2 separate regions of the Homo sapiens genome follow, and region 2 is linked to region 1. Evidence: fine-mapped expression QTL. A gene starts in region 1. The other region holds a variant in brackets. All regions are shown on one strand. Distances are between the middles of the regions.

Region 1 (12,650 bases):
TGTAAATTGGGCACACAATTTCAGTTAAGGTTCTCTCTGGGTGATATTCCACATAAACTGTCATTGAGGATTACTGCAGTAAGCCTTTCTTTAATAAGCCGTGTTCATGCGAAGCCTTGCTGAAAACAAAACCTATGGCCTAATTGCCTTGAAATTTTAGCAACATCAATACATTCTTGATCATATTTTTTTATCATATACTATCAGAATTATAAGGCAGAATGTGTTTGGCAAACATTGCAAACAGGAACAGTAGAAAAACCTGAAGTAGAACTGTTTTCTGCTCTGTTGAAAGGATAATCATTTGAGAAAAAAGACCCTAATGAGCTACTTAGTTATAAGTTTTAGTATAGGGTAATTTTTATAATTTTAAGACCTTATTATAAAATTGAAGTGGAAATTTAACCACACATATGGACACTCAAACACATGAGGCTCTTCTGAAGGATGGTTCCAAAAAAAAAAAAACAGATTTATTGACAGAAGGGCAATCTAGAACGACATTGTATTATCAGTTGCTGGAGTCTGCAAATTGGAATCTTCAAGAAATGAGTAACTGTTCTCTACATGGACTGCAGTGGTTTGATCATCAACTTTCCTGGAAATTTACCACGTTATTCAATAATGAAAGTAGCTTCTGGGTCTTCAAAGACACACATGTATGTGGTGTGCCAGTTTTTTGGAATTAACTGCATTTGGAACATTCTGACTAGGTCCTCTGTGGTACTACAAGCATAGAGTCATTTTCACATAGTGCTATTTCTGTAAAATGTACACTCTTTCCATCATCAGAATCTAGTTTTTTAAAGATAGCTGGATCAAATCAGAAATGATCTCAATTTAATTTCTTTTCCTACTTGAAGCAACAGATTTGCTAAAACCAAGACATCTGCTTATCTTATTTCAGAAATTTGTGCCAAGAAGAAACTGACTATTGATCGGCATCTCAAATATTATATTTAATTATCTACTTTTATATAATTGTAATAAAACATTTAAATGATATATTCCAGTATTGTGTGATGACAACTTTTTACCTGAGGAGACCAAGATGGTAACAGAATAGTAAACTAGCACTTAGGGTATGAGTCAAGAGCAGATCAATTGCTATTTTAAATGCACTGAGGTCCATTCACCGAAGTACCATTTGCTAATTCCTGCACTTGTCCCTTTTCAGCTCTCTCTTCCATTCCCATTGGCAACTATTTAAAATCTTTCTTTCAGAATCCCCCTCCCTTCCCTCATTCTCAGCAGGCCACTCTGTCCTCTCACTGAGGCTATCAGATCAAATCCTTCAACTTCCAGCACCACTCTACTAACTATTAACACAGAGATTTTTTTTTTTTCTCATTTTCGCCCAGGATAAGATCTCGCTCTCTTATTCAAGGCCAGCCCTGTCAAAACTGCTAGGCGTCTCACTCCCTGACTACAGCTGCCCAGCATAATTCAGTGCCTCTTCTAGGCTCCTACAGTAGACACGCCCCTCCACCACCACCATAAACACACACTACTGGCACAGCAACTCCCAGAACTTATGATGCAGATCCCTCCCCCTGCCCCATTTCCCCATGTCATCTTTGCATCCTTGGCACCTTCCACTAAGCCTAGCAAGCAGAGATACCCAACCAATATGTGTTGAAGTGAAACTGTTCACTTTTAAGCATGAGTTATTTTCAAAAGCTTGAACCAGAACTGAGCTTGTCCCAGATTGTCTGCAGAACAGCATATGATTTCTGCTCCACTTTATTTTTTCAACCCATAAATGACCCAAAAAGGAGGAATGAAACATTTCCAGTAACTAAGGTTGCCAGAAAAATACAGGCTGCCCAGTCGAAACTGAATTTAGGATAAACAACTAATAATATTTTGTAGTATAAGTTCGTACCAAATATTACATGGGACATAGGTAAAAACAATAATTCACTGTTTATCTGAAATTCAAATTTAACTGGGCAGCCCACCTTTTTATTTGCTAAATCTGGAAAACCTAACAGTGCTTTGTTAAAAATTCTCAGAGGACTCGGAGAACGCTTCCTTTAATGCACCTGGGGATTTGTATGCAAGCTCCGCAAACTTCTCAATCATCCAGATTTCATGTCTGTTAATGCAACTAGGTTTCTTTCTGAACATCTCAGTAACGTGCTTTAAGAAATGCTGCTTAATTTATTACATGACATTTTCACTTATTTTGTCCATTTCATAGAATTTTTCTTATAATACAATTTATCGAAGATTTTACAAAGAATACTGTAATTTTGCTTAAGATCTCTTGGAAAGCTAACATTTATAGAGTTATTATCATGCCTCAGTTAAGTCCTGGCTGCAAGTATTAATTTTTGAAATTTTCATATTTTCAATTAAATCAGCAGAATGCAAAAAGAGAAATAAACAAATCTTTGATTTGGAGATTTATTTTCTTCATTAATCAAGCACAGCAATACATAGTATCCTTACTAACAGCCTTGCAGAAGCAGCCTGGCAGGCGGAGGTGGAGCCTGTGATGTAACTGCGGTAGGTCTTTGTTGGAAAAGCCTTCCCTAAATGTAAAACATCTGTAAATTGAAGCACTTCAGCTTCACTGTGCATGGGCTGGCAAGATTAAAGAGTTGCTTCTTTCAGCATCCTGTACTGGAGGCTTAAAATTTTGTTCCACAGAGGAATTCCTTATAGGTCTTTACGAAGATTACGTATCTATCTCACCAAAGCTGGGAGAAAAGCAGGCTTTTTCTGCAAAAGAGAACCATTTCGAGTACTGATTGCTGTGTGTGCTGGTTTACTGGTAAATGGTGGTGATGCAATGGAAGTTATAACCCAAAGTGTAGGAAGACGCCCTACAACCTGTTCCAGTCCTCAACGTTCCCTACGTTAATGGGTTCTTCTTTCAGTGTTCTTGACAGTGATGTCTTACAGAGAAGACATTTATTTCTTCTTCCTATGAAAAAGATTAAGATGAGAGAAATACCTCCCAATGTAGATACAAGAGTGTGCCTTTGGCAAAATACCAACTAAACTGACCCCCGAGAAAACTTCTGGGGGAGGGAATGACTAAGTCTGCTGTAACTACGTGTTGTCATAATAGGTTAATGAATTAAGACATTTATCCCAATACAAGCATACTACCTGCTTTCCACCATATTGGCAGCACCAGTTAAGGACGGTTGTCAAGCCACCGGCACAAAACGTATACATTGCAGAGATGCAGAACAATGCCTGGATGCCTGCCCAAAATTGGTCTCTCCAAATGACAGACTCAATTGATAGTACCAATCTACGGCCCACTGGGGGTTAGCAGCGTATTTTCCTAGGTGGTGGGGGAAAGGGATGAAATGTGGAAAGCTCAGGGCACTGTGCAGAGCAGAAAGGCTGACAACATATTCATTAAACTTGATCTGAAGCAAGTGAGCCCGTGAGGTCGTTCCTGAAATATTCATAAGATGTGTTACCGAACTCGCCGCTTAGAGGTTGAGCATAAACACTGAGTCAGAACAGCCCGTACCCACACTTGGAAAACAAAAAAAAGCACCCACAACAGCTCACCCCACCACCACACTCCACTGCTCTGCTTTTAACAGCCCCGTCAGCTGTCAGCTGTCACTCCCCACTCGGCTGTCCAATTCTACCTGCCCGGGAAAGAGATGCTCCAATATTGAAGTGCGGAGTTTCCCAGCAGTTGGAGGAGGCGCAGCTCAACAGCCCAGCCGACCGCTCCTCCCAGCTCGCTGCGCGGAGGACCCCACAGTCCGGCGGCCCCGCAGCCCGGCTGCCTAGCTCCTCCCTGGAGACCGAAGCCCACAAGGCAAGGGGTTCCCAGGGACCCAGACCAGCCCCTCGCCCCAGCCAGGCCGCCCTTGTCCCGCCTTCCATTTTGGCTCTGTCTGGGATCCCTTCCCCGAGCCCTCGGCGTTAGGTCGCTAGGCGACCTACGCCCGGGCCGAGATGCAAACAGCCTCTCGCGCCGACCTGCAGCCTCTCGGGTGTTAATTGGGAGGACAGGATAGAAGGGGAAATCACTGTCCTGGGTGACCCCGGAGCCCCTGCACCAAGGCAGAGTGCACTTTCATTCCCGTTCCCTCTCTGCCCCCGATGCTTAGCATTTCTGCTGCCTCCCAGGCACAGCGCAGCTTGCGTGATGCCTCGCGTCCTCGCCGCACCTCTCTCCTCCCCAAGGGCATTCGCCCCTACTCCCTAGGCTCCTCTGGGGTCGCCAATCACCTGGACTCTGGCGGCGGTAGGCTCAGCAGCTCCCGGCGCGCGGCGGCGTGGTCTTCATCTCCGCCTTCCCCAGGCGCTCCGGCTACGCGCTCCGCGGCGGCGAGCGACGCGCTCGGTCCCGGGCGCCGAGGCTGGACAGGGGCGGCCGCGGCTGCCGCACTGGCTGCGGGCGCGGAAGGGGCGGGGGCGGGGCAGGAATCTGGGTCGCGTGGAGCGGAGCAAGCCGGGATGCACCCGGGGCGGCTGGCGGCGAGGAGGCGACCGAGAGCAGCGGGGGAGGGCGTGCAGAGGCTTCCCTGGGAGCACGAAGCGGGCGGCTACTGAGCATGCCCAGTCCGGGAGCCGGGGGCGCGGGCGCGGTGCTGGGGGAGAGAGCGCGGCACCCAGTGCCGGAATCTGGGGGGAAAGGGTTAAATCTGCGGACCCCGCTGCTGTGGGAGGTGGCTGGTGTGGCCCAGTTTAATTGCTCCCGGGTGGCCTCCCTGGAGGAGCCCACGACAGGAAGATGGTGAACCTGAGATGACCTGTCAATGGGATTCCCAGACAGTCCGGGCAAGGTGTGTTCCCCGCCCTCTCCCTGGATAATTGTCCAGAAGTCAAACTTTGTTTTAGTTCAGCTCCAACCTCCCTCGTCTCACCGAGCACCCAGTGACTCTTCCAATCCTGATCCCCACCCTTCACCTGCCTTCCCGGGACTGCAGAACCCTATCCCTCACCCCAACCGGCAGCCCCCGCCTTTCCCACTCCTGGCCCAGTCGGGTCAGATTCTCAAAGAGCCAGCTCTTTAATTAGGTGTAATTGAGAGATCGTGTCAATCCTGCGAGGTCCATATCTGCATTTCAACAAGGGCTTTAGAAGCAATACCGTAACCCCGGGGTTAATTATAACAGGATGAATTATAGACACCCTCGTCCGGGGCTGTTTGGGGGAACATTGCTTCGTGGGGCCCCAGAAGCCACTTCATACAGACAGAGAGAGAGAGAGAGAGAGAGAGAGAGAGAGAGAGAGAGAGAGAGAGAGAGAGAGAGAGAGAGAGAGAGAGAGAGAGAGAGAGAGAGAGAGAGAGAGAGAGAGAGAAACCTGTGCCTTCCGGATTGCATTTCATGTTTGATGAAGAACGTTTTCTCCATAGCTAATCAAAAAAGTCTCTTTAATGAGGCCGCATGGGGTTGGGGAAAGACCAAATGAGCTTCGAGGTCGGCGCTTATTTTAGTTTCATTCATCACTCCAAGCCGGTTACCTGACCGTCTTGTGCCTCTGTTTCCTCACCTGTAAAACAAAGGGTGGTTAATACCTACCTCTGCGGGCTGTTGTGAGGATTACTTGGGCAGCTGGCGGCGCGGAGCAGCCTGGATACCAAAGCATCTGCCTGTCCCGCAGTGGATGTTCCCTGAATAAAAGTCTCTGCAGGTTCCACCTCCACTATTCTGTGTTTATGAAAAGTTGGGTTAGTGATAATCCTTAAATGCTGAACATTTATCTTATTTCCTCTTCACATTAAATGACCTTAAAGCCTTGACCTTTCTGATTTTTTTAATCATTGTTAAAAGCATTAGCCACTATTTACTTTTCTTTCTTTTCAGGGAGATATGAAGGATACCTCCCTGAATAAACGTCTTGGAAAAAGATAGACCTTTGGAGGGAAAAGCTTCTCGGGAGAGATTCATTAGGGATAGATTAATCCACCTGACAAAAGAATTTTACTCCATAGTCTTTTAAACGTAATTTGCTTGCATCTCCCTGTGGTCCTTGTTTCACAACTATTGCATGAAGTAATGTATGCCTGTATGGAAGGAAATTTACTTCCCATGCATACTGTTGACTATTTAAGTATCAGAATTCAAAAGATAAACTTTTTATTATCCCCCAAACATACTATTTTTTTAATAACACATTGCTTTATTCATGGTGTTCCACCCTTTCTGAAATACCATTCTCAAAAAAAAAAAAAAAAAAAAAGAAATACCATTCTCTCTCATTCTATTTCATGAAGTGCTACTCACTCTTCAAGCTCAAATGTCACCTTCTCTCTGAAGCCTACCCTGAACCTCAAGACAGAGTGAATGCTGTGCTCTCATAGCACCAGTGCATACTGCTATCACAGTACTCATCACAGCCTATCACTGTGGTTCAAGCAATGTAAAACTACTTACTGAGCAACTGTTATTTGCAGGCGCCATTCTACATGTTAGGAAAATAAGAACAAACAAGACAAAGTTCCTGCCCTCATGGAACTTACAGTCTAGTTGAAAAAGACAGAAAATAAACACCTAAACTGTAAATAATCACTAAGGACAGAAGTCTAGTAATTCTGTTAATTTTTGTCTTTGTGTTATCCATCAAATTACGCTATAGAGTCTTGACTCATCCTTCCAAAAAACATCAATAAAAATATTAATATTGGCTCTAGGCCAAACAAATGACATGGACATGGATCTCTGCCAGTTTGTTGCTGAACCAGTGACTTTTACTCCTTTCAGTTGATTCCCTCAGCTAAAACTTTCCTAAACTCAAACCACTCAAGGTAGGTAGCTGCAATCCCATGTGATGAATGGAAAATGGTAGGGGAGGGCTAGAGAGTTTAATCTCCACAACAAATTATATCCTTTATCTAACCTTTAGGAATGGCATTTCTAAAATGTCCAGAATCAACCTGGATCCCCAGATCTCCTGCATCCCAAAAGTCTCTTCCAGGGTCTTGCACACCACTCCCACCCTCTCACCTTTTCACCATCTTTGGCCTCTATTTATGTCAATAGTTATTCTCTGTCATACATCTTCTGTTTGAATCTACCTACTGTCTGAATGACAAGCTTTTCTCTCTGATTCTCTTATTGTCTAAGTGTGAGGCAGCCTTGGTATCACTTAGAACTGACTTCTTCAAAGCATATTTGTACACATGTATGCCATAGCAATTAGAGACAATCTCGCCACTGTTTAATGTGAGTAATTCAAGGGGAGGGTCTCATTCATCTTTGTATTACAGAACTTAGCAGATGACCAATATGTAATAGATACTCAAGGAAAAGTGTGAAAGGAATGAATGAATGTAAGCAGGTTCTCAACTCTATGTGGCTCCTTAGACTATAGTTCTTTTCTAATTGGTTTTCTTGCTAACCCTAGAATTGCTTCACCAGGATCTGGCTCAGTTTTTCTTTTCATAATTTCTCTTCCACCACAAATCCACAGATTTCTCCACCTCTGGGTCCTGCATTATTTTGGGATAAAAATACCTATTGAACAGATTAACATGCAGTCAACAGAGAGGGTATTTGAAGAAACTGAGATCATGTGATGTAGCATTTACAGGTAATGAGTGAAGAATCCAGAGAGGAGAATGTTGTGCCTCTACAGCCTCCCCAGAGTTACAGCCGGAGAGCTGAAGAGGAAGGGGAAGAGCTAGGAGATGCTTTGTCATCAGCTTAGACTCCATACTGGCCCATTACAAGTGACACAGAATTTGAGTCTTTTCCAGACAGGTGGATATATTTCCTTGCTCAGAAGATCTGTTACTGAACATTATCATTTAGAATTTATTTGACTATAAATGTCCTCACCTAGAAATGTCTTCCTTTAGCAAAGGGTAGATTGAGCAATGGACAAGCAAGTTGGAATTTCCTGCCTGGATCATTTTGTGGGTGGGGTGGAAGTCATGGCCCATTTATGTATTTGTAATCTAGCACTGGTCTTAAGCACTGTGGGAGGAAAGTATTCTTCGATGTATTGGCTTCATAATAAAACTAGAAAGGGAATCTTTGGACTTAAAAAGCATGAAGTCTTGTCTAATTTTGCCTAATTGTTGTGTAAAGCTTAGAAATTAATGTAAGGCCACTCTGCTTTCCAATGGAATGGATTTTATAGGCTTATGGTATTCTGGACGTAAAACCACAGCAGCAGCTGGATTCAACATGCTCATTAATATCTATAGTGATAAAATTGTGACTGAGATTACATGAGGGTTAATCATCATGTTAGAGAATGCGTTAAACTAAACAAACTAAGACTCTCAGACATGCTGCTGTGGCAGTCCTCTAAATGTGATCTCGAGAGGGTTTCCAGTGGCACAAGGACTCATCCAAACCGTAATTCATGTCATAACCATTTATTAAGCACTTAGTATATATAAGGCACTATACTAGATACTGGGGATACAAAGCTGGATAAGACACTATGATTTTCAGGAACTCAGATCTGGACAGAAGCATACACACCGCTCCCTGCCCCAACACACACACACACAATGTAGGCTTTTTCTCAAGGTTGGTTTCCAATGTAGAATTAAATCTGTATGAAGTACCCTTCTCGCTGGGCATGGTGGCTGTTTCCTATAGTCCCCATTACTTGGGAGGCTGAGGTGGGAGGATCAATTGAGCCCAGGAATTTGAGACCAGCTTGGGCAACATAGTGAGACCCATCTCAATAAAATGAGGAAAAAAGGTCCCTTCTTCTCTCATCTCAGTTACCTAGTCAGACTCCTCTGTGCCTGGTTTTTGTTTAAGGTGTCATTCTCCTATGACAATGCAGGTCAAAAAATTTTGTGAATGCTGGTGCTCAGGCCCCACTCCTTTCAGAGAAGTCCAAGGGAGTTGAATTAACATCTAAAAGATGGCTGCTCCTGCAGGTACCTAAGAGCAAGAAACTGATGTCAGAAAACAGGGTAAAAGTTAGAATATTTCGTAACTGGCACTGGGTGTGATGTTCCCACAATAAAGTTTTAATGGGCTAATCCTGCAATGGCCTTTACTGATGGCAGCCTCCAGGAGAGGCGTTATAAGTGGCAGCTTCTTACCGGAATTTATTTTTAAGGAGGAAATTTACATTTTGAGGGCATAGAGAACAGTCAAGTTTAGTAAAGGGGAGAAAATGTAGGCTTCTACAGGTCTACAAAAATCAGGCTTAACCAGCTGTTTTACTGCTTCCTGAAATTATATGCTACTTAGCTTGAAGTGAAACCTTTGGTGAAACTCTGGAATGATAGGTTGTCTATTTTGATGTCATGATAAACCTTGAGGACAATGCAGAATGTCCACAAAAAACATATTTGGCATGGCCAACAAATTCAAGGTGTGTCTATCGAAAATGAAGCAACCAGATATGATCTAAAATTAAAACTAGATGGGAATCCTTACTAAGTGATGCTGGGCCATACATGGCTCTCTGAGACGTTATTACCCTTAATGATCAAAGCCCAGCCAACTTCTTAGATATTAGCAGTAGTGTAGAGGAAGCTCAGGTGTACTAAACATTTAAATTGCTCATTGCTGATCCTAAGTTTGAAATCACCGTCAACATTGTTTTAGGTGTGATAGTGAATTTTGCTGTCATTGCCAATGGCATCATCAAACACTGCTGAGAACTAGAACTCATGGCCCCTCTGGTGGTCAAGTTTGAAGGATTCAATGTCCAGGGGCCTTAAAATATGCTTAATAGCATCTAACTAACTCCCCATTACTTATGGCATTGACTTGGAGGATACAGCTAAGAAGGCTGTGGCCAGCATGGCAAAGAAATAGCCATGCTTCTTCTTTCTAATCCACTGGGAGGAGAAATCTCCATCCTAAAAAAAGGGGTGAATATCATCACTGAGAAAAAAATATCTATCCACTTGGGGAAAAAGGGGAAGGTGTAGAAGAGGGTCAGTAATCAGTAATAAAAAATCTTAAAGCTGTTCTGTATTTTCATGAATAGATATACAGATAGCCTAAATAATTCTGATTTCACATACAATCTTCATTAAAATAATGGTCTGTTTTTGCATGTTATGTTCTTTATCATGGTAAACCTGTCCATAGACAGTAAGTACTTGGCAAACAACGTGGATATAGTGAAAACTTTGAATCAGGCCCTAGTTATTTAAGAGAATTCTGCTGGACGTTTAGTTTAGAAGAATTAAAAAACTAGAGACAAAATCTCAGGCAAAATTACATTTCAAACAGATGGCTTGGTCATATTAAACTATTGAAAGGACACGACTAATACATTCTAACAATAGTTATTAGGCATTACAACATTTTAACAAGTTTCTTATTCTGGTATGTATGGCAAATTTGTGAGGTTGTTTTATTCCAAAATATTTTCTAATGCAAAAAATCCACATTTATACCCCACATGAGGATTGTATGATTTGACTTAATCTTTCTACTATTTACCTCACAATAAACATAAACACTAAGGCTTATTTGTGCCTATGGAACAGAAGTTTATTTTTATCTCAAAACTGAAGAATTCTGTCACTTTTGTCACCCAGCCTGGAGTGCAATGGTACGATCTCGGCTCACTGAAACTTCTGCCTCCTGGGTTCAAGCGATTCTTGTGCCTCAGCCTCCCAAGTAGCTGGGATTACAGGCATGCACCACCACGCCCAGCTAATTTTTGTATTTTTTAGTAGAGATGGTGTTTTGCCATGTTGTCCAAGCTGGTCTTGAACTCCTGACCTCAAATGATCCACCCACCTTGCCCTCCCAAAGTGCTGGGATTACAGGCCTGAGCCACTGTGGCCAGTCCTCTTTTTCTAGAATCTGCCAGCTTGTGGTAGAAAGATTTTAAAAAGTAATAAAATGTGTTCTTTTCCTTTTGTTTACATTTTGAAAAAAAATTTTTAAATATTTTTATAAATTTGAATAAAATCCTATATTATATGAGCTGTTAGCAACAAATTCTGTACTAAAGCAAAGAAAGGTAATCTTGCCACTTTGCAGTTATTTTCATAAGTCTAAAGCAAGAAATTTCCTCCATATTTTTGAAAATGTGAGTTGGTGGTGTCCTTTAATAAAGTCATGGATGAATGGATGGATGATGAGGGACAGATAGGTGAGTGAATGGCTGGATAGATGGAGAGAGAAAGGGAAGAATAAATGAATAATGTAACTCACACATGGATAGGGCATTCATCTGTTCAGAATTTTCTGAGATCATCTAGATTTCAAATATTTTCTCTCACTGTCAGATTGTGTTTCAGACAATAGATCTCAATTTTTGGTTTGTAAATTTTAATATACAAAATATACATGGAGACATTTCTCCTGCTTATTTACTATGGAAACTGAAAAAGATGAAGATTACTGTGACATCCTGTCTTCATTTAACACTTGCTGAGTGCTATGTGCTAGGTTCTGGTGAGCACTGGAGATATGAAGATAAATAATGTGGAGACTGCCTTCAAGAAGCTCACAGCTTGGTAGTAGAAGAAAGTGATGGAAGCAGATAAACAATGCAAAGAAGTACATGGTGGACTAGAGATATGAACAGCTTTCTGATGGGAGCCCATTGGAAGGAGTGTTTATGATCCATTTTTCTTTAGTATGTCCCAGAATTTCCTACACACAATAAAAATATTCCACCAAGGAGCATGCCTACTCTTAGCTCAGTGACACATCATGACAGTGCCCTGTTACTCATGCAGTACAAGTATGTAGGTCACATAAAAGTCTGTGGCTTTACATTTCATGGCATCATGTATTGAAGTGTACTAATCACAATATAGAGCAGCCTGGAGCAATGTGCCCATGAAAGTTTTGACTTTTCAGCTCTTGAAATTCCACATAACAGCTGTGTTTAGAACACCTGTTCTTTGCTTTTTTACTCTCGAAAGGGCATTTCTTCTATGAAGCATCTCTGAAACTCGAAAACGTTATTTATGACTTCACCAGGATTAACTTCCTTTACTTCAATTCAATAAGATTTCTTGAGTGCCTACTATAAATAAGACACATATCTAGAGAGATTACACATGTTTAGGTCCTAAAAATTGGTTGTAGCCCAAATATAATAATAAAATTACCTGAAGGTAATAAAAAGGGATAAAAATAACTAACATACATGCTCTTACTATGTGCCAGGCACTATCCTAAGCACTTTACATATTAACTCAATGAAAATGACATAGGGGGCTCCCACAAGCCTCTGACTTGATTGTTTTCTATGGTCTTCGGAATAAAGGAGATAAGAGATTTTGTTGAATGTACAGAGAAATAAAGTCCCCTTTTAAAGTCCCTTTTTTACTTGTCAGATCACTTTATCTGGTATTTCTTTAGCGCCAGTATAGAAGGCACTACCGTAGATGGTAGAATTATCAGTAATTTTTAATGGCAGAGAAGCAGCCAGTGATAATAGGGAGAAATTTGGAGGCTCAGGAGGCACCAGTAGGTGAACAAATTTGCCTTTTTTTTTTTTACTTATAATGTCTATCCTTTTATGAAAATAAGAATTGTGCTTTAGTTAAATAGAATTCAATTATATTTTTCCTGTTCCCTATTTCACTCTTATCTCTAGATCAAAGTTCTGAGTTACTCGAGTCTCTCATATGTGAAAGTAGACAGGTATCCTAAAATAAGAAAGGAGGAGGACGAACACCCAAGAGAAAAACAGAAATTACAACAAATGCCATCACACTCTCAACATCCCAGTGCAGAGTCAGCTTCAAGTGAGAGAAGTAAGTT
Region 2 (12,650 bases), 26 kb before region 1:
TGGTCTTGAACTCCTGACCTCAGGTGATCCACCTGCCTTGGCCTCCCAAAGTGCTGGGATTACAGGTGTGAGCCACCATGCCTGGCCCTCACATTCATTTTTGAATCACCTACAATACCTCACAGTGGGCTCACAGTAATGGGGTAATGTGACACAAACATGAGAAACAGCTTGGAAGTCAAAGAGGCCTGCATTCAAACATCTATGTGCCTTTGTTGAAGTCACTTAACTTTACTAAGCCTCCTTGTCCTCCTTTGTAAAATGGGATGTTATGTCTTACTTAATTACATTTGCTATGAAGAGAGAATGAAAGTGGAATAAATACTTGCATTATTAGCAATGAATGCACACTAAATGACTTAGTGGACCAAGATATTAATCAAGTATGAATGACTTAAAAATCCAATTTGTAGTTATTTTTGCTAATTGTAAGCCCTTATTTACCTAATCATACTAGAAAAATAGTTTTTTCCCTTGATTGCCTCAAAGTTGGGACATGGGATAAGTCTGCTGTATTGCTCAGTTCCTCCCACAGAGGTTTGAGCTTGGCAGATATTTTCCTTTCCTCTTTTCTGCTGGAGGAAGGAAAATAACGAGGTGAGATGCAGGGCCAAGAAACTGAGATTCTGAGACTGGAACAGTTGGAAGCAATGATTTACATGGGTGACTTTAAAATTTTCCTTTATTAATTTCCAAAATTAATCATGTTCTGATAACTTTAAAAAATATAACCTCAATAACTAAATCCCAACGAGGGAAATGATCTTCAGCACAAGTTTTCAGACTTCTCTGTTATACACATCAACTGAATTAAAGTTAGTAAAATATATTACAAAAATGAAACCCTAAGCTTTTGTTCTAGCTGGGACTTAAAAAATGTTCCTTCTTTTTCTGATCACATGTAGATATGTTTTGTTATCCATGTTTTCCCATGTTTTCTTTTTCTTTTCTCTTCTTTTTTTTGTTTTTGAGACGGAGTCTCGCTCTTTTGCCAGGCTGGAATGCAGTGGCATTATCTCGGCTCACCTTAACTTCTGACTCCCTGGTTCAAGCGATTCTCCTGCCTCAGCTTCCTAAGTAACTGGGACTACAGGCATGTGCCACCACACCCAGTTAATTTCTGTATTTTTAGTAGAGATGGTTTCACCATGTTGGCCAGGATGGTCTCGATCTCTTGACCTCGTGATCTGCCCGCCTAGGCCTCCCAAAATGCTGGGATTACGGGCGTGAGCCACCACGCCCAGCCTCATGTTTTCTTTTCATGCACATCATGGCTAAAGTCAGACTGGATGGTCTGGGGATACATACCCAATATCCCATTTCTATCCTCAATTTAAAATACACATTTTAGCCAGGTGTACTAATCAAATAGCATTTATTCCTTATATTTCATGTAATTTTTGACATACATTGAATATTTTCTCTATTCCTTTTTGCTCTGAATATTTATACCATTAATATATCTGATGGTAGCAATTGGGTATCATGTATCCTAAATGTAGATCAAAATCCATTTTTTCCCACAACCTGGTTTCTCTAAGGTTAACCTAATTTCTTCTGGGACTGTGCATGGAGCATTTCATTCTAGAACATCTCAGAAGTTGACAGATTAATCACTGCATGGGCTTTTAAATAATGCTGAATTCTTCCCAGTGAAAAGTCAGCTCCTCATTCTCCATAATACATTTGCTGAGCTCAGGAATTAACATCTGATTCATTCAGGCTTTGCTTACATAACCTTCTCTTTGGTTCAAATGAAAAGATTGCCAAAATCGTCCAACATCTGTGGAAATGGACTACAGAAAATAAATCAACTAAAGAAGGGAAATGATCAAGTTTCCTTTTATTATTTCAAAACCAATGGTCAATGAAAATCCTCAAGTTTCTGTTTTAATGTACAATCTGTTATCCTAGCTTTAGTTTCACATAAATAATCAATGCCATATAATATTTATAAAATATACACTCCAAGATACATGAAAAAAATGTTTATCAGAACACATAACTAATAGGGATGTGTTGGTTCTGTAACCCTTGGTGCTAGTCTATGCAAAATTACAATGGTAGATTTTCACTGTACCAGTTCTAAATCATCATATACAAATTAATTTAAAAATGTACTCTTTGTGCACCTATTCAGTTTAACAATAAAACTAACAGAACCAAAGGCTACTATTTTTCCTAAAATTACTGGTTTTGAGGCTGCTCAAGTTTTTCTAAAACAAATAAGACATCGAGGAAGAAATTGAGTAGTACAAGACTTGGCAACCTTACCACCATCATCACCACTTTTACAAAGGGAGCTCCTAAATTCTAAGCTTCATCTCACACTAAAGCTTTCTGTTAACATGATTCTGCAGATGAAAGACACCATGTTTACATTCAGGAGGTGTGCACAAATGCCAAATTTTCATGAATGTATAGATAGATCAGTTAATTACCATGACAACCAAGAACATATTAGGTCAAATACTTGGCTGGCAAATGTCCTCCTGATTTTTCAAATACTATATTTTTACACAGCTAAGATAAACAGTATTCTGTACAATAAAACAAATGCTGATGACTATAAATTGTTTCACAGTAACTTCCTGAGAGGTTTTCACAATTCGAAGATCCAGTAAACTACCAGTAGCTGCATCAAAACCCAGTGAATCCCACACAAACTGATCTGGGTGCTCCAGAAACAACAATGGAACCAAAACCACTGGGGTGGGGGGCAGTGGATCTTAAATTATGGCCATTGTAGGAATCAAATCATTTCTTAAAAGATGCAAGCCTATTAATTTGCTTAGAGAAAACAGGCCCGAGTGAAAGACAAGAATGTGTAACAGAAGCAGGTCACCATCTTGAGGAAAAGAAGCCCGATCTTCTGGAAAGTATGTTGTATTTTCTCACATTCAGGACCTGACTAACTTTATTTTGCCGTATTTTAATATTATGCAAAATTTATCTGGGAATTCCATTAATAGACAACTGAATGACAGTCAATACTCTTGAAAATAATTATAACTTTAGGTCCAGTCAAATGCTTTTCAAAACTAAAAAAGATCACCCCAAACATACCAATTTATGGCATACTCTGTCCAGCACAATCTTCAGGGAACCAACAATTGATACAAATTTCAGAGACATCACTGAGGTAAGAAGAGCGGAAGCTTAGAACATATAGTTTGACCGCCCACAAAATTTTAAAATGCCCATATGGATTGGCCAGCCAACCAAAATCTAAATTAAAGGATATTTAAAAGGATACTTATTTCCAGAAAATGATTTTACACAAATTGTATTAAGTGATTCATTGACAGCTATTTCCTTAAACCTTTCAGGCCAGCGGTGTACCACTGTGCAGAGACACATGGCACCAGGGCTGTCTAAAGTGCCATGCTTTTGTGCCCACACTCTCTCGCCATCTACAAGTGCTCTGTCTTATCATCAGCACGCATATAGAGTTAGCAGAGGAATCTCATGGCCAAGTTATTCTTAGCAAAAATGCAGTGCTATTTCACAGAATCTTAGGAGTCCTGGTCACAGGATCACAAACGATGACTGGTAATATTACCCTAACCAGTGAGGAGGTTTCTCCCACTGCAGAGGGCTCAGCCAGGGAACCGTAAACACATACCTCAGGAAGTGCTTCATGGTGCCCGTGTTGACTGTCCAGATGCTATATGAACTGTCCTCAAGTAATTGCTTCCAAATTTGCCTTTGTCAAAGTAAGTGTCAACTGTGGGAAGAAATTAGATATTAGGTATATTTACTAATAAGGCTGGAAGCTGCAAACCAAAAATTTCTGCTTACTGAGGCAAGCAGTTAACATGCCAGCCACCCAGAACATTATCAACAGAACTGCCCACAGAGCAATGCAATTCAATGGATAGAGGTTACAGGTATAGACTTTATATTAATACAATTAGCCTTTCATTTTAAGTCACTTGCTGGAGAAATTATGAATTTCATGAGCAATCTCTTCAATATCAGTCTTTTCCTTTATTTTGGGTATTGTTCCTATATCTTTAGGAATAGTATTCCTAAGAAAAATAAAAATGAAGAACAATAAAATTAACCAACTGGATTTCCAGATATCCAATAGTCTAGTATCTGGCGGCCCCAACTTTGTAGAAGTACAACTCAAAAATAACTGGAACCAACTAACTTCAAGATAAAAGACAACTGTTAAAGAGCTCAAGCTCAAGAATCACTTAAAGCGCAAGATACTACAAAGAAATGAATGATGCCCCAGGCCCCATTGTCTTTTGGCACTGTGAACAGAGCAGTGAGATTTGATATTTGCATGGCACTTTTTGGTTTATGATTTGCTTTCACAAAGTGTACATCAGGTTATCAGCCTTCTTCCTTTTGATAAGGAAGACACTAGGAGCAGCCTGCAAAGCAGCAAGTTAGGATGAGAGGGGATAAAACAGACTATAGAAGAGAGAGTGTCTGCAAGTGGAGAGAAGTTATCTCATGAGAAAAGAGAGAAATGGAACATCCACTGCAGCAGAAATGCAAGGAAACGAATATACATTCGAAAAAGAGCTGCGGGCAGAGACACATTGCCAACTAGAACAGCCCAGAGTGTGGGAACTCATACTTAGCTCGAATAAAAGCCAGTCTCTTATTTAACACGTTTATTTCTGTAAATATTCCATACATGCTTGAAAAAACTGTCTATACACCAATTTAAGACTGTGGTTGCTTTTGGGAAGAGAGGTGGGGTTTAGGATTGGAAGGAGAAAAATGATCTTCTCAACTTTGTGTGTTTTATTTCTTAAAATATATCTGAGGCAAAATAAAAGGAAAATAACGTTTATTCATTTTGAGTGGTGGGAACATATATTATCCTTTGTACTTTTGTGTTTTTTCTAAATGAATCCAAATTTTAATTTAATTTGGTTAGTTCCCACCCAACACTCGGATCATAATTTCTAATACATTCAACAATAAAGGCATCTAGGGGACCCTGGGAAATGGTTGATTCTAAAGCTGGGTCAGGGCAAGGTGAACCTGAAGCATATTGCAGCACAAGAAAGTCAAGAAGTGCTCAAGGTAAACAAAATAGGCGTGTGTCAAATAAACACAACAATCAACTGAAAGAACTCCCAATGGTCAAATAATTGACGTAGCCACTCTGCCCTCAAGTAGGTGGAGCAGGCCAGGCACCCTGGCTCACGCCTGTAATCCCAGCACTTTGGGAAACCGAGGCAGGCAGATCACTTGAGGTCAGGCGTTCAAGACCAGCATGGCCAACATGAAGAAACCTCATCTCTACTAAAAATACAGAAATTGGCTGGGTGTGGTAGTGCGTGCCTATAGTCCCAGTTACTCAGGAGATTGAGGCAGGAGAATCACTTGAACCGGGAGGTGGAGGTTACAGTGACCCGAGAATGCGCCACTGCACTCCAGCCTGGGTGAAGGAGTGAGACTCTGTCTCAAAAACAAACCAAACAAAAACCTCCCTATCCCTTAAATATAAACTGGACATATGACTTTCTGAGTACAGTGTGGATAGGGGAAAAAAGAATAACTACAGTAGGGCTGGGCACAGTGGCTCACACCTGTAATCTCAGCACTTTGGAAGGTGGAGGCAGGCAGATCACTTGAGGCCAGCAGTTTGAGACCAGCCTGGCCAACATGGCAAAACCCCATCTCTACTAAAAATACAAAAATTAGCCAGGTGTGGTGGTGGGCACCTGTAATCCCAGCTACTTGGGAGGCTGAGGCAGGAGAATTGCTTGAACCTGGGAGGCAGAGGTTGCAGTGAGGCAAGATGGCACCACTGCACTCCAGCCTGGGCAACAAAGTGAGACTCTGTCTCAAAAAAAAAAAAAAAAAAAAAAAAAAAAGGAAAAACCTGACAAACACTGCCTCAGCCAGGTGATCAAGGCTAAGATCACCAGTGATAAGTCATGTTGATAGCATGTAACCTTGACCTGATATGATGAAAATGGCACTTTACTCCCCCAAACATATAACCCCAGTCTAATCATGAGAACATTCGACAAACCCCAATTCAAGGGCATGCCACAAAATATCTAATCAGTACCCCTCAAAACTCTGAAAAGCTTAAAAAACAAGGAAAGTCTAAGAAACTATCACAGCCAAGAGGTGCAAGCCAAAGGAGCTATGACTATTACACGTAATGTATTATCCTGATTGGATCCTGGAATAGAAAAAAGGACATTAGGTAAAAACTAAGAAAAATTGAATGAAGCAAGGACTTTAGTTAATAATAAGGTATCAGTATTGGTCCATTAGTTGTGACAAATGTATAATATTAACGTAAGATGCTGACAACAGGCTGGGTGTGGTGGCTCACGCCTGTAATCCCAGCACTTTGGGAGGCCGAGGTGGGTGGATCACGAGGTGAGGAGATCGAGACCATCCTGGCCAACATGGTGAAACCCCGTCTCTACTAAAAATACAAAATTAGCTGGGTGTGGCAGCGCGTGCCTGTAATCCCAGCTACTTGGGAGGCTGAGGCAGGAGAATCGCTTGAACCCGGGAGGCAGAGGTTGCAGTGAGCCGAGATCACGCCACTGCACTCCAGCCTGGTGACAGAGTGAGACTACGTCTCAAAAAAAAAAAAAAAAAAAAAAAAAGATGCTGACAACAGGGGAAAGTATAAGGGAACCCTCTGTACTATCTTTGTAGCTTTTCTGTAAATCTAAAACTGTTTTCAAAATAGTTTATAAAATATGTTAATGCCTGCTACGCTCTAGACATAGTGAGGCACTAGGGATACTATAGGGTAAACAAAAGGGGCATAGCTCTACCCTGTAGATGCAACAGTCTTTGGGGAGGAGAGGAGAGAAGATGATACAGAGAAACAAACAGGGACTTAAATACAGTATTACAAGTGGAAATAGGTGCTGTGGCAGTGAGTAGGAGAGATGCTTAGCCTAGATGTAGGGGTTGGGGGTTCTCCAGATAGCACATGCAAAGCTCTAAAGGCAAAAGAGTGCAGAATATGTATAAGAGATAAAGTTCCAACATGACTTAGTGTGGTGCTCAGTGAGAGGGATGGGAAAAATAGTGATGGCAAGATAAGGAAAAGCAAGTAAGGGTCAGATCAAGCAGGCTTAGTAAGTAATGTTGAAGTTTGAACCTTATCTGAAGAGCAATAAGGAGCTATTGAAAGCTTTCCAGCTGAGATGTGACATGATCAGATCTCTAGTTTAAAAAATACACTCTGGGCCGGGCATGGTGGCTTATGCCTGTAATCCCAGCACTTTGGGAGGCCG[A/G]GGCGGGTGGATCACGAGGTCAGGAGATCGAGACCATCCTGGCCAACATGGTGAAACCCTGTCTGTACTAAAAATACAAAAATTAGCCGGGTGTGGTGGTGTGTGCCTGTAGCCCCAGTTACTCAGGAGGCTGAGGCAGGAGAATTGCTTGAACCCGGGAGGTGGAAGTTGCAGTGAGCCAAGATTGCACCATTGCACTCCAGCCTGGGCAACAGAGACTCCGTCTCAAAACAAAACAAAACAAAATACTCTGATTGTAATATGAAGAATAAATTGTAATATGAGGAATAAATCCTATACCTAAAATTATAGATATAGGATACCATCTACAGACTTGTTGCAATAACCCAGGCAAAGATATTAATGGCAGGATAAGGCAATGGACAGACAGAGGTGTGAAAGATATGAGAGATAGTTAGAAGGTAGATTCAATAGGACCTTTGTTAATTGATTGACTGCGGCAGTGGTTGGCAAAGGAAAAGGGGGAGTTGAACATTATGTCCATGTTTGTGGCCAGCAACTGGATAGACAGAGGAATTATTCATTAAGATATGATATTTTGGAGAAGCATATTTGGGGATCTGGGTATAAAAAGGTCTTTGGAACATTTTTAGTTTTCAGGACCAAGTGGTAAAGATTCATGGATCTGAAGGTCAGGAAGACAACACAGGTTGGAAACAAAGATTTGGGCTTCCTCAGCATGTAGATGGTAATTAAAACCATAGTTCAGAAGGAATTACTAAATAAGTAGCATATATGACACTTGTTCATAACAAAAGCTCTTTGTCATTAGGATATGATTGAAAAAGAACTCTCATGCAACTAAGGTAGTAAAGAATGGATTGCATTTTAGAAATAGTTTATCTAAATTTTTAACAATTCTGTACTGTTAAGTGGTTTGATTTCAGTTAACTATAAAATTGGCTTACCTGAAAAAAATTTTATTTCATAATGATGTGAGATAAGTGAAATAATACTTTAACTCCCCGTTCTTTACATAATAGTTCTTGAATTTATCCCTTGTAAAAACTTCTTGAATGTTTATGTGTCCAATATTGTGCTGAGTAACGCAGCATAGTTTAATACAGTAAAAGAGCCTTCCTATTAAGAGAAAATTTGGCAGATATGGCAGGGAGTGTGCATGGTGGTTGAGAGCACAAGTTTTGGAGACAAAGTTCTTGTCTAGGATCTACCACTAGCCAAGTGGCAGCTTTAGACAAGTTGCTTGACCTCTCTAGGATTAAATGGGGTAAGTAATTAAATTAGCTTGTAGGATTGTTCTAAGGATTAAAAGAACCAAAGCATGTAAGGCACTCAGCATAGTTACAGGTATTTAATATACATTCAGTGAGTAGTATTTATTATTAGTATTATAATTTTGTCATTCTTATTATGTTCTCCTCTAAAGTAAAAGATCATTTTGTCAAGTGAAGAATCACTTAAGAGACTGTTAAAATAAATTCTCGCAAGTTGGTGTGACCTGAACTGGGATGATGACTGTGGGGAGGGAGAGAACTGAACAGAAGTAAAAAATATTTAGAAGGTAGAATCAACTGGACTTGCTGATTGAATGGGAAAAGTGAAGGGAAGGAAAATAACCATTAGTTCTAATTGTCTGTCCCCCAAACAGGAAACAAAGATAACAATTAGATCTCATTATCTGTCCCCCAAACAGGAAACACCAAAAATGGCTTTGGGTGGCAGAAGAAGCCTGTGCAAATGCTATTTAACTCATTATTCACAGAATATTCATTAAATAACTATGCTAAATGTTTTATATAGAAAATGAAAAATTACTGTTTCTTTTTAAAGTCAAGTAGCTTTGTTTTAAAGGAGACCCACTTGTTAATGTTCTATTTGCTGTTAATTAGACAATCTGTGTTTAGCAAATCATAGCTGTGTGTGTGATGTTCTGAGCCACTATTGATAAGAAATGCCCTTTGAATTATTTTTCCATGAGTGGTACTGAGCTCATCTATTTCATTCTACTAAGCCTCTGCTATAGCCAAACCAGCATTTCCCAAGTGGTTCAGCAGGACCTAAGCATGGGGAGAATTTTTTCAAGATAATTTCAACTTTTATTTTAAATTCAGGGAGTATATTTGCAGGTTTGTTATATGCGTATGTTGCGTGATGCTGAGGTTTAGGTACAATCGATCCTGTCACCCAGGTAGTGAGCATAGTATCCAATAGTTAGTTTTTCAACCTTTGCTCCCCTCCTCCCTCCCAACTCTAGTAGTCACCAGTGTCTATTGTTGCCATCTTTATGTCCATAAGTACCCAATGTTTAGCTCCCACCTATAAGTGAGAACATCTGGTATTTTGTTTTCCGTGTTAATTTTCTTAGGATAATGGCATCCAGCTGTATCCATGTTGCTTCAAAGGACATGATTTTATTCCATTTTATGGCTGTGTAGTATTCTATGGTATACATAACACATATTCTTTATCCAGTTCACTGTTAATGGGCACCTTGGTTGATCCCATGTCTTTGTTATTGTGAACATATGCTGTGACGAACATATGCATTTGTCTTTTTGTCGAATGATTTATTTTCTTTTGGATATATACCCAACAGTGGGATTGCTGGGTCAAATGGTAGATCGTTTTAAGGTCTTTGAGATATTGCCAAACTGCTTTCCATAGTGGCTGAACTAATTTACATTCCCACCAGCAGTGTATAACATTCCCTTTTCTCCCAGCCTTGCCAGCATCTGCTGTTTTTGGACTTCTTAATAATAGCCATTCTTGCTAATGTGAGATGGTATCTCATTGTGGTTTTGATTTGCATTTTCTTCATGTTTGTTGGCTGCTTGTATGTCTTCTATTGAGAAGTGTCTGTTCGTGTCTTTTGCCCACTTTTTTTTTTTTTTTTTTTTTTTTGAGATGGAGTCTGGCTCTGTTGCCCAAGATGGAGTGCAGTGGCTTGATCTATGCTCACTGCAAGCTCCACCTCCCAGGTTCACGCCATTCTCCTGCTTCAGCCTCCAGAGTAGCTGGGACTACAGGCACCTGCCACCACGACCGGCTAATTTTTTAAAAAATATTTTTAGTAGAGATGAGGTTTCACCGTGTTAGCCAGGATGGTCTCGATCTCCTGACCTTGTGATCCGCCCACCTCGGCCTCCCAAAGTGCTGGGAATCCAGACATGAGCCACCACACCCAGCCTTGGCCACTTTTTAATGAGGTGATTTGTTTTTTGGATGTTGAATTGTTCAAGTTCCTTATAGATGCTGGTTTTAGATCCTTGTCAGATGCATAGTTTGTGACTATTTTCTCCCATTCTGTCTGTTGTCTGTTTACTTTGTCAATAATTTCTTTTGCCATGCAGAAGTTCTTTAGTTTAATTAAGCCTGGTTTTAGACCCTTGTCAGATGCATAGTTTGTGAATATTTTCTCCCATTCTGTCAGTTGTCTGTTTACTCTGTTGATAGTTTCTTTTGCTGTGTAGAAGCTCTTTAATTAAGTCCCACATATCAATTTTTGTTTTTTGTTGCAATTGCTTTTGAAGACTTAGTCATAAATTCTTTCCCAAGGCTGATATCCAGAATGATGTTCCCTAGGTTTTCTTTTTTTTTTTTTTTTTTTGGATTCTTACAGTTTGAGGTTTTACATTTAAATCTTTAATCCATCTTGAGTTAATTTTTGTAGATAGTGATAGGTTGGGTTCCAATTCCATTCTTCTGCATATGGCTAGCATGCTATCCCAGCATCATTTATGGAATACAGAGCCCTTTCAGGATAGGAAGAATTTAAGTTCACTCTTCTTCTGCATAGCATTCTAACAATGAGGCGGCCATGATACACTTCTCCTGTGTTTTTACACATCAGCCTGTTGACTTCAATATGGTTACATGTAAGCCTGGTTTATACCTGTTTCATTAATTGAAAAATACAGATATTTACTTTTTTTTTTTTTTTTTTTAGATAGGATCTCACCCTGTCACCCAGGGTGGAGTGCAGTGGCACAATCTTGGCTCACTGCAACCTCTGCCTCCCGGTTTCAAGCAATTCTGTGTCTCAGCCTCCCGAGTAGCTCAGATTACAGGCATACACCACCACACACAGCTAATTTTTGTATTTTTAGTACAGACGGGGTTTTGACATGTTGGCCAGGCTGGTCTCGAACTCCCGGCCTCAAGTGATCTGCCCACCTTGGCCTCCCAAAGTACTGTGATCACTTTACCACCAGGCCTGGCCCAGATATTGACGTTTTATTTGTGTAATTCAGCTTTACTCAGTTATTAGTTACATATAGAAAAATTCACCCTTTTTGTTCATACATAAACTTTAATGCCACCTGCTTCACAAAAATCAAGATGAACATAAAAATCATTCTCTGTGCTGAACCTTCCCAAAGACTTCCTCTCTAGAGGTGTTTTTCAAGCGAGACATTAGAATTACCTGCTCTGTGTTACTAATAAATCGCTAATATTGTTCCAAAATTATCTGTTTCATGTCTCCTTCTGCTCTGGACTGTATGCTTTTCTAGGACACCCATGGACGGGTACAATGCCTGACACACTGCTTGCTTAATATATACTTGTCAAAATGAACTTTGTACTTTTTTAGAAAAGTACTTTTTTACCAGCATTACTCAATCACAGTACTAATAAAACAAACTGCAAATCTCCCAATTGGAAGAAAACAAATCTGTAGATTTATTTTTAACTAAAATAAAGAATATGATTATAATCCTGGGTTTACTAACCTGTTCCCCTGATTTGTAGTAATTTTTCTCAATGTATACAGGGACATTGGCCTGAACTCATCCAAAGGGAAGGATCAAATGATTGTGCTTGTCATATCAAACGCCCCTAGAGATCAGTTGATACTTCAGTGCTAAGCTATGAGGTTATCTGCCTCTTGTCTTTTTTTCTTTTCCAGCTGAGAGAAAAGGGGCAGTAATGAGTGTGGTCTGCTACTTCTGAAAACTCATCCTCTCGCCCGGCATCAAGAAACCAGCCTTGCTTCCTTTGAGCAAGAAGCCCCCTGAGGCTCTTTGTAAAGTGCTACGGGGTAACCCTAACTCTTAGAAGTCGATCTCTCTATTAAGCACCCCAGGGAATGAATTAGAGACTCAACTAGAAGGGACGGAACTCCTTTCTTTAAAATCTTGAAATCCCTAGATGAGACAAAGAAAGCTACTTTCTGCGTAGCTCTTCACATTCCAAGTTTATCCCCTGTAACAACCAAAAGGCTGGTGGACTCATACTGTTTATACATAAATAAAAGGTAATCTACAAAGTAAATACTATTTCATTTTTATAATCTTCCTAATTTGAGATTACCCCAGTTTAATAAAAAGTTGTAGACAGCACATTTATAAACAAAATTTTATTTTAAAAGTTAAGTCTTAGCTTAAAGTTTTATAAAATTAATGATAATAGCAAATATTCACAAAG

What was found. PIP is the estimated chance that this variant, and not a neighbour inherited with it, causes the effect.
Region 2: its variant is the best candidate, but not a certain one, in a credible set for the expression of ELMOD1 in lung (TOPMed, PIP 0.66).

The regions. Positions count from the first base shown.
Region 1 is chr11:107,582,972-107,595,621 of GRCh38, reverse strand. It overlaps ELMOD1 (ELMO domain containing 1), which reads right to left and starts at 4,475. Exons shown (of 12, transcript NM_018712.4): 1 at 4,213-4,475. It also overlaps the pseudogene SUCLG2P3. RefSeq lists an enhancer at 3,973-4,032 and silencers at 4,283-4,422, 4,483-4,592.
Region 2 is chr11:107,609,182-107,621,831 of GRCh38, reverse strand. ELMOD1 (ELMO domain containing 1) reads right to left here. Exons shown (of 12, transcript NM_018712.4): 2 at 3,626-3,727. The coding sequence starts at 3,642. Among named protein-coding and RNA genes, the nearest start is that of ELMOD1, 24 kb to the right of the region's middle. The variant A/G (reference allele first, on the strand shown) is at 7,245.